Linked DNA regions of Homo sapiens. The protein of the gene in region 2 interacts with the protein of the main gene of each other region in a pairwise test. Each region holds a gene or a part of one and is shown on either strand. Other genes may lie near its edges.

Evidence for each region.
Region 1: the proteins of VEZF1 (region 2) and CAPN3 interact in binary tests that used the Homo sapiens proteins (3 or more experiments, as listed by UniProt).

The regions. Positions count from the first base shown.
Region 1 is NC_000015.10:42,383,470-42,387,217, reverse strand, and holds part of CAPN3 (calpain-3), read right to left. Parts: intron 2,736-3,748; coding exon 2,666-2,735; exon of another isoform or gene 2,061-2,665; intron 1,516-2,060; exon of another isoform or gene 1,399-1,515; intron 1,253-1,398; exon of another isoform or gene 1,187-1,252; intron 1,052-1,186; coding exon 933-1,051; intron 1-932. UniProt on the Homo sapiens protein: Calcium-regulated non-lysosomal thiol-protease. Proteolytically cleaves CTBP1 at 'His-409'. Mediates, with UTP25, the proteasome-independent degradation of p53/TP53.
Region 2 is NC_000017.11:57,986,160-57,989,907, forward strand, and holds the start of VEZF1 (vascular endothelial zinc finger 1), read right to left. Parts: upstream 2,096-3,748; 5' UTR 1,953-2,095; coding exon 1,920-1,952; intron 1,792-1,919; exon of another isoform or gene 1-1,791. UniProt on the Homo sapiens protein: Possible transcription factor. Specifically binds to the CT/GC-rich region of the interleukin-3 promoter and mediates tax transactivation of IL-3.

The DNA.
Region 1 (3,748 bases), on a different chromosome or scaffold from region 2:
TTGAATGAATCAGTTTGAACTGAAAAGGGCCAAATGTGGTTTAGTCTCCTTTTCAATGGCACTTTCTCCCTCATTGAAATGAGAACAGAAATCTATCTGATATTTGTATGTAAGGCCCTTTAGATCTGAGACCCTTTAAATATGCCATGTTCCCAAGGCGGCAGGAGGGGGAGTCTGAGCCTGGAGACAGACCTTTTCTGAGGCCTTCCGTGCTGAGGTGCAAGACCCGGGGAGCAAGAACTGATAATGTGGGTCATCCTGGGACATGAGGGAGCCTTTGAAGCTGGAGACAGGCTGACTCCCCAGCATCCCGGAAGCTACGAGACCCTCACAGGTAGAATTCAGTTTGGTTCTGCTCTAGCACCAGCTCTATGCCAAGGTGACTGGGACCCAGAAAATTTCCAGTAGCTGGATGGATTCTAGAACCATCAGATTCAGTTCTAGGGCAAACAAGAAGCCTGATCCCCAGGTTAAGCAGACTCTTCTTCCAGGGCTTGGAAGAGAGGAGTGATAGCCTTGGTACCGCCATGCCTTAGAGAGGAAGAAGTATACAGGAGCCCTGGACAGGGGTTCCTGTACAACCTGAAGGGTCCTGTGGTGTCACAGTGCTAATATCTTAGGGACCTACTTGAGAAGGGCTGCAGGCAATAAAAGCAGCCAGACAGCTGCAAAGACAAAAATAGACCCACAGTAAACAGGATGTCTTCCTGTCTTTCTGGGACATAGTGGAAGGTGGTGGGGGAGGGATTAGGGAGCCAGAGATAAGCAACTGCTTCCTCCCAGGCTTGAAGCCTTAAGGGGGTCCATGCCGACTGTTGCCGCTGCGGGTAGATGGGTGGGAAGTTTCCTCCAGCTTCTGGGAAGTCAAGGCCAGGAGACCAGCGGTGGGTGGCCTGCCGCTGGCCCTCTTAACTACACTCTCATTACCTCACCTGGAAGTGGAAGATCCCTGCGTAGTTTTCGATGAAACTTTGATCATGGGGTATGACTCGGAAAAGAAGGTGCTGGTTCAGGGTCAGGCAGGCAATGGCTGCGAGAAACCAGCAGTCCCCTGCAGGCAGACACAGGGCACAGATCGTGAGCACTCCTGCTCCTCCTGGGAAGAAAAAGCCCCAATCCCAGCCAGCCACTCCACTTCCCTGAACGGGGACTCCCTTGGTGCCCACTCTCCTACTTCCAGATCTGACCTTACAGAGGTGTCAACCCAGGGAAGGAGAATTGGACAGGAATTCCTTGACAATATGATCAACAGGTAACTTACTCCCTTGTGACTAGACATTTTCCTCAAGGCTGCAGGCAGTTCCTCCAACTGCAGTATAAACTCACTTCCTTTTTAGGCCTCAATGGAGACAGAGCAGTAGGTGATCATAACTGGGTTGTTCTTCCTAACACCTGTAGGAAATCTGCCCTGCCCTGTGCCTTTGCAATGTGAGTCCAATTCCTCTTCTGACTTCAGCGAAGACTGAGCCTCAGAGAACCATCCACCAAGATGATTTGTATTGGAAGGAAGGCCAGGTAGGCAGCTGCCCTGGAACCCGTCTATAGGGGGCAGTAAGACATTGCTGGCAACGGAATGAGCTCGGGACGTTTTCTTATTCTCTGAACCTCTTTTCTGACAGAGTACTGTATGTAGTTGGAGGTAACACTTTGCTCTCTTTCTCTCTCTCTCTCTCTCTCTCTCTCTCTGTGTGTGTATATATATATATAATAGGGGGTGTACCTGGTCACAGAGCTGCCTTCTAAGGAGGATGGGTTAAGTGAAATGCAACTGAGAGTGTGCAGGGGAGACTGAGAGCTGCCTGCAGCCACTCTCCCCTACCCTCCTTGGAAGCAGCCAGTCTTTCCTTGGAAAGAGGTTATTGGTTTGAAGGTCCCAGATTATTATGCCCAGGGCTCTGCAGGAAGCCTTCCCTCAGGTGCAGGAACCCAGATATTCATCTGATTTATTCTCAGCCTCCCCTTCTGGAATGAAATAAGCCAAATTCCTTTGGTCTTAGGTGCCCCCTTTTCCTCAAATTTAAATTGTTTCTGTTGGTGTTCTCTCCAATTTTACTTCACAGAGCTTGCTTATAGTCCACACCAAAGACAATACTTTCTGAACAAGAGGTCGAGAGAGAGGAAGATCAGATGGAGCAGTCAAGCTAACCAATCAAAGAGAAAATTGGATGCTCATCCACATGGCGGATGCCATCTTTGTGGAAAGACTCTTTTAAGATGGAGCTATGCTGGGGCAATTTAAACAAGGGTTCCAGTTACAAGTGCTTTCCTTGGCGATGCCTTTTGTGTGTGTATCTAGAATCTCCATGCCCAAGGGGCATGCTTGGTGCACAGTCACAGAGCTGTCTTCCAAGAAAGACGATACAGTGAAAAGCAGGGCTTTTGTCATGCTGAGTGGGGTATGTAAGTGTCCTTGAGATACTGGAGAGGAGGCCACAGGATGCAGATACCCCCTGTGATGCATGGCAGAGTGCTAAAGAGGCATGTAGGAGGAAATGAAGCAATCGCCAGCATGTAGATAAACGACCATAAAGCAACTGTTATAAAAAATCTTCCAAAAAGTTACTGGAAGCAAGCACAGATTGTCCCTTTACCTCCTGGAAGGGGATCACACCTTGTAATCACCCCTTGATCATCTGGCAGGATCTGACCTGAGGCACTTTCCTACCTAGCTCTCCTTGACAGATGTCAGTTCTGTTGGCTCCATCAATGATAAATCGGGGATTCTCGCAAATTTCCTGTGAAACAAAAAGGAAATGACCAGGTAAGAATAACAGTAGATAGACAGATAGATAGATAGGTATTTTTTTGAGACGGAGTCTCACTCTGTCGCCAGGCTGCAGTGCACTGGTGCAATCTTGGCTCACTGAAACCTCTGCCTCCGGGGTTCAAGTGATTCTCCTGCCTCAGCCTCTCGAGTAGCTGGGACTATAGGCATGCGCCACCATGCCCAGCTAATTTTTGTATCTTTAGTAGAGATACGGTTTCACCATGTTGGCCAGGATGGTCTCCATCTCTTGACCTTGTGATCCACCCGCCTCGGCCTCCCAAAGTGCTGGGATTACAGATGTGAGCCACCGCGCCCGGCCGCAGTAGCTATTATTTATTGAGTTCCATTATGTAGTGTTCCTGATAGTATTCCATTTGGCCCTGTGAAGGGAATACTATCATTGTTATTTTTCAGATAAGGAAACTGAGGCCCAGAGAGGTTAAGAAACTCGTGCAAAGACACACAGCTAGTAAGTAGCAGAAGCCAGAAACATGCCTCCTTTTTACATTGTCCCATGCTGCTTCCCACACTGTCATACTATTCGAGTAAGGATGCAACTTGAGAGTTAGGGCAGTGTCGGCTGGGCGTGGTGGCTCACACCTGTAATCTCAGCACTTTGGGAGGCCAAGGCGGGTGGATCACTTGAGGTCAGGAGTTCAAGACCAGCCTGGCCAACATAGTGAAACCCTGTCTCTACTAAAAATACAAAAATTAGCCAGGCGTGGTGACAGGTAATCTCAGCTACTTGGGAGGCTGAGACAGGAGAATCAAAATAATAATAATAATAATAAATTAATAAAAATAAATAAAATATAGATTCAGTGTTTTGTATTGTTTTTGAGACAGAGTCTCACTGTGTCGCCAGGCTGGAGTGCAGTGGGCGACACAGGCTGGAGTACAGTGGCGCGATCTCGGCTCACTGCAAACTCTGCCTCCCAGGTTCAAGCAATTTTCCTGTCTCAGCCTCCCGAGTAGCTGGGA
Region 2 (3,748 bases):
TAATATAAAATCTAATTAAAAAGTTGATCAATAAACGCTTGGCATTTGTTTTACCCAGGAGAAAAATAATCTTTAAAAAAGTATTTCAAAAGATTTTTCAACCAGCTTTCCAAAGATGTGTTATGGGTTTTTCCTTTACATGAAGAACACTTTTTTTTTTCAATCTCTATAGACACCATGCTTAATATGGTTTTTAATCACACGAAAATCACTTCAGTGGCACATCAATCCCATATTTTAAAATAACCATTTGAGCTTTTTTCTGGGGAAAGTATTTGCCACCTTTACACCAACCTGGATGCATGCTAGTTATATATCATTTCTTTTCCAATGCATTTTCAAGTTGGTTTATCACATTATTAGCAAGCTCATCAAAGTACAATAAAACAACACTGATCAGAATGAGAAAAGGGGGAAGTTCATGAATTCCATAATGTTGGGTATTTTAGATTTTAAGAAGCCCAAATATATTTCCATAACTACTTAAAGATCAAATTGCCCACATTTGAAAAAATATGTCTTAAAACAACAGGCCAGTCTACACAGTAGGTAATTTCTGAGTTATCCAATTCTCTATATTAACTCCACTAGGATGAATCCAGTGGCTGGGAGAATAATTTTTTGAAAATTCTGCATCCGTTCCTGTTAGTTTCAAAAGGTATCAAGCGCCCCAGCTACGCGTTTGGGATTTCACGAAGTATTCAAAGGAAAATAACTCAGAGAGGCGGGAAGAACGCACTTAAAAGTGACGAGCTTCCTAACCTCCTCCAGTTCCGAAGTTTCCCCGTGAGCTCATCGCTACTGCCCACTGAATGCTTCGTTTTGCAAACAGAAACGAAGTAGGAAAAAAATAAGTTCCAGCCTAGATCTGCCAAACAGGGGTCCCCCATCTAAAGTGGGCGGGCAAGAGAATTGCCAAAACACATCGGCTACAGTCACTTTCAAGTTTCTTGCAAAAAAGCGAAGACCAACATCCCAGAGAGTGACTCATCTGGGGGCTTTGTAAGCGGACTTTGTTTGCTCTCTCCACTTGGTTGGAGGAAACGTTCGAGGTGGGCGAGAAAGAAAAGCGCTTCGGGAGAAGGTCGGGCCTCCAGGAGTCCCGGCCCCCACCGCTCCCCGCCTGCCCCGGGCCGGCCCGGCTGGGGGATTCCCCAGGCTGAATGGGACGGCGGGAGAGCTGGACAGAGGGAGAAGGTGTCAGCTGCCAAGGCTCGGCTGAGACTTGGGAAAAAAAAATGTAAATCCAGTGAAAAAGTTTGGGGAGGGGATACACACTCACAACATCCGCCCCCCCAACTGGGTAAACACGAGAGGGGTGGTGGCGGTGAGGGGGAGTGGCGGGGAACCTGGGGATACCCGCTATTCGCGGGGACACGGGAGGGGGTCAGAAAGTCAACACACGCACGCACACACACAAAAAGACGAGGAAGGTGAAAAGAGAACAAGCGAAAGATGGATGAAGTGGCGGGGAGGAGACTCAGGGCAGGACCTGGGGACCTCCTCACCCCACCGTGGGGGACCGGGCCGGCACGCAATGGCCCAGCAGCCCGCGCTATCCAGCGGCCCGGCGCCCTCCTTTCTCTGGGCCGCGGGGTGGTGACAGCGACCGGCCTCCTCCCTTCCCCTTCAGAGCGAGAGGGAAGGGTGTGTGTGAGTGTGTGTGTGTGCGTGTGTGTGCTGGGGGGCCCCCGGGTTCACCCCGCGGCCTGCTATCTCCCCCGCACCCCGTGAGGCCGCCTCCTTTCACCTCAGCAGCCCCGCTTCGCCGGGGCGGGCGGGCGGAAAAACAAAGGGGGATTAAGGCCGGGCCGGAGAGCGGAGCCGGGAGGGAGGGGAGGAGGAGCGCCCGCCCGCCCGCCAGCCCGGGGCCCGGCCCCCCTGTCCCCCCCGTGCCCCCCCGGGGGGGCCCCCAGTACCTGGAACAGGAACGCGGTCCAGTTGGCCTCCATGGCTGCGGCGGCCGACCCCCCTCCTCCCCACTCCCCCCGCTCGGGGAGCCTCCTCAGCCGGAGGAGGCGACAACAAAGCGGCGGCGGCGGCGGCGGCAACGGCAGCGGCGGCTCCTCAACATGGCAGCGCCGAGCGCGGCCACTTCCGGTAACCTCCGGGACGCACCACCGCGGCGGCGAGCGCGGGCGGGGGGGGAGCCCCGGCCCGGCCGCCGCCGCCCCCAGTCGCCCGGACCCCCTCTGGGCGTCCCCGCTGCCGGCTCGCCGCCTCGGAGCTCAGCCAGTGCCCGCTGGCGGTGGGGTCAGGGCCCCCGCGGGGGGGCTGGGGTGGGGCCCGGGGCGGGGATGGGGCGCGGCGTCCCCCCCCGCGGGGGTGTGTGGTGCTGCGGTCCGTGGCTCAGGCAGCTGGAGCAGGGGGAGCTCAGGAGAGAAGATGGAGGACGCCAGGGTCTGGCGCTGGCCCGCTGGGCACAGCTGGGCCGTCTCCCGTGACTCAGACACGGTGTCCAGCACCGTCGCGTCCCTGTTAGACCCTCAGCGGAGGGCACAGGCCACGGCGGACACTCGGCTCTTCAGTCGCTCATGCACAGCATGGTCCCCACCTCCAAACTGGGGGAAGCCCTTTCGACTTCGAGCCTCTCTTCCTTTTGGCATTTCCTCCCCGGCCGGCTAAGCCCTCTGCGCTCTCGCTATGATATGCATCTCATGGCGAGATGGCCTTCCAACTCAAGCAGGGAATCCCACTGGGGTGCAGCCTCAGATCCTCTCAGTGTGGAGGGAAACACTTCCCACGCGTAGAGATGTCATTACTGGGTTATTCTTGGGTGAAGGGCTGAGCCTCCCCATCCTCCCCTTCACTCCAAGATAGGATGTGAAATTCTATCCCAACACCCCTCCTCTCCCGCCAAAAATAAAAACAAGTGAGATAGTATAGACAAATTATTTTAGTCCTTTAGTACAGTCTGTTTCCTCCTTCACCCCCAGAACAAAAATCGAACTTCTGGTTGGACAGCGTCAGATGTCACTGAGGTGACCCCAGCCTGTTTGCAGTTCCAAGTCTTCCGTGTAGGCGTCACTGCTACTGGAACTTTGTAGATGAGGAGCCTGTATGATGATGTCCTGAACATTTCTATCCTTTCCTCACACAGAGGGAAGCTACTGGGAATATCAGAGACAAGCTATTATTAAACAAGTGTCTCTAGTCCAAGACATCTCCTGTGGCAGGGAAATGAGGGGGCAGGCTGTATCAGTGATATTTTTATAAACTCTGGTTTTAGAAAAAATTCTTCAGATGGACGCATTATTTTAAGACTTTAACATTTTCCAAAACCAACTGAATCTTATCCCCTCCATTTATCCCCCTCCAGACACTTCTAATCAAGGTCACCATCTCCAACTTCCCCCATAGACAATAAAAATATGGCTGGAGAATTCTACTGTAATAGAAAACCAAGGAGATATAGTAATTTGACAGTGTGTTTCCTTTCCATCCACTAGACAAGAATACCCCCTCCCATTCTTTCCTCCCCTCAGTCACCAGAATGAAGGGGCTGGAAAACGTTGGTCTGGTTCCTTTTAGAGCTGATTCCCCATTGGATACTGCCTGGAGGCCTTGGGGATGAATGAGAAGTTCTGCAGTTTGGATCAGTAGCAGAAGCAGGTAACACATCAGGGAACCGGTCAGCCTAAGATAGGAGGGGACAGAAAATGATGAAAGAGTTTCTGATACATTTATCAGCTAAATTGCTATGGTCACCCCCATGTCTCCTGTAATGTCCAAACCTAAGGAATTAACT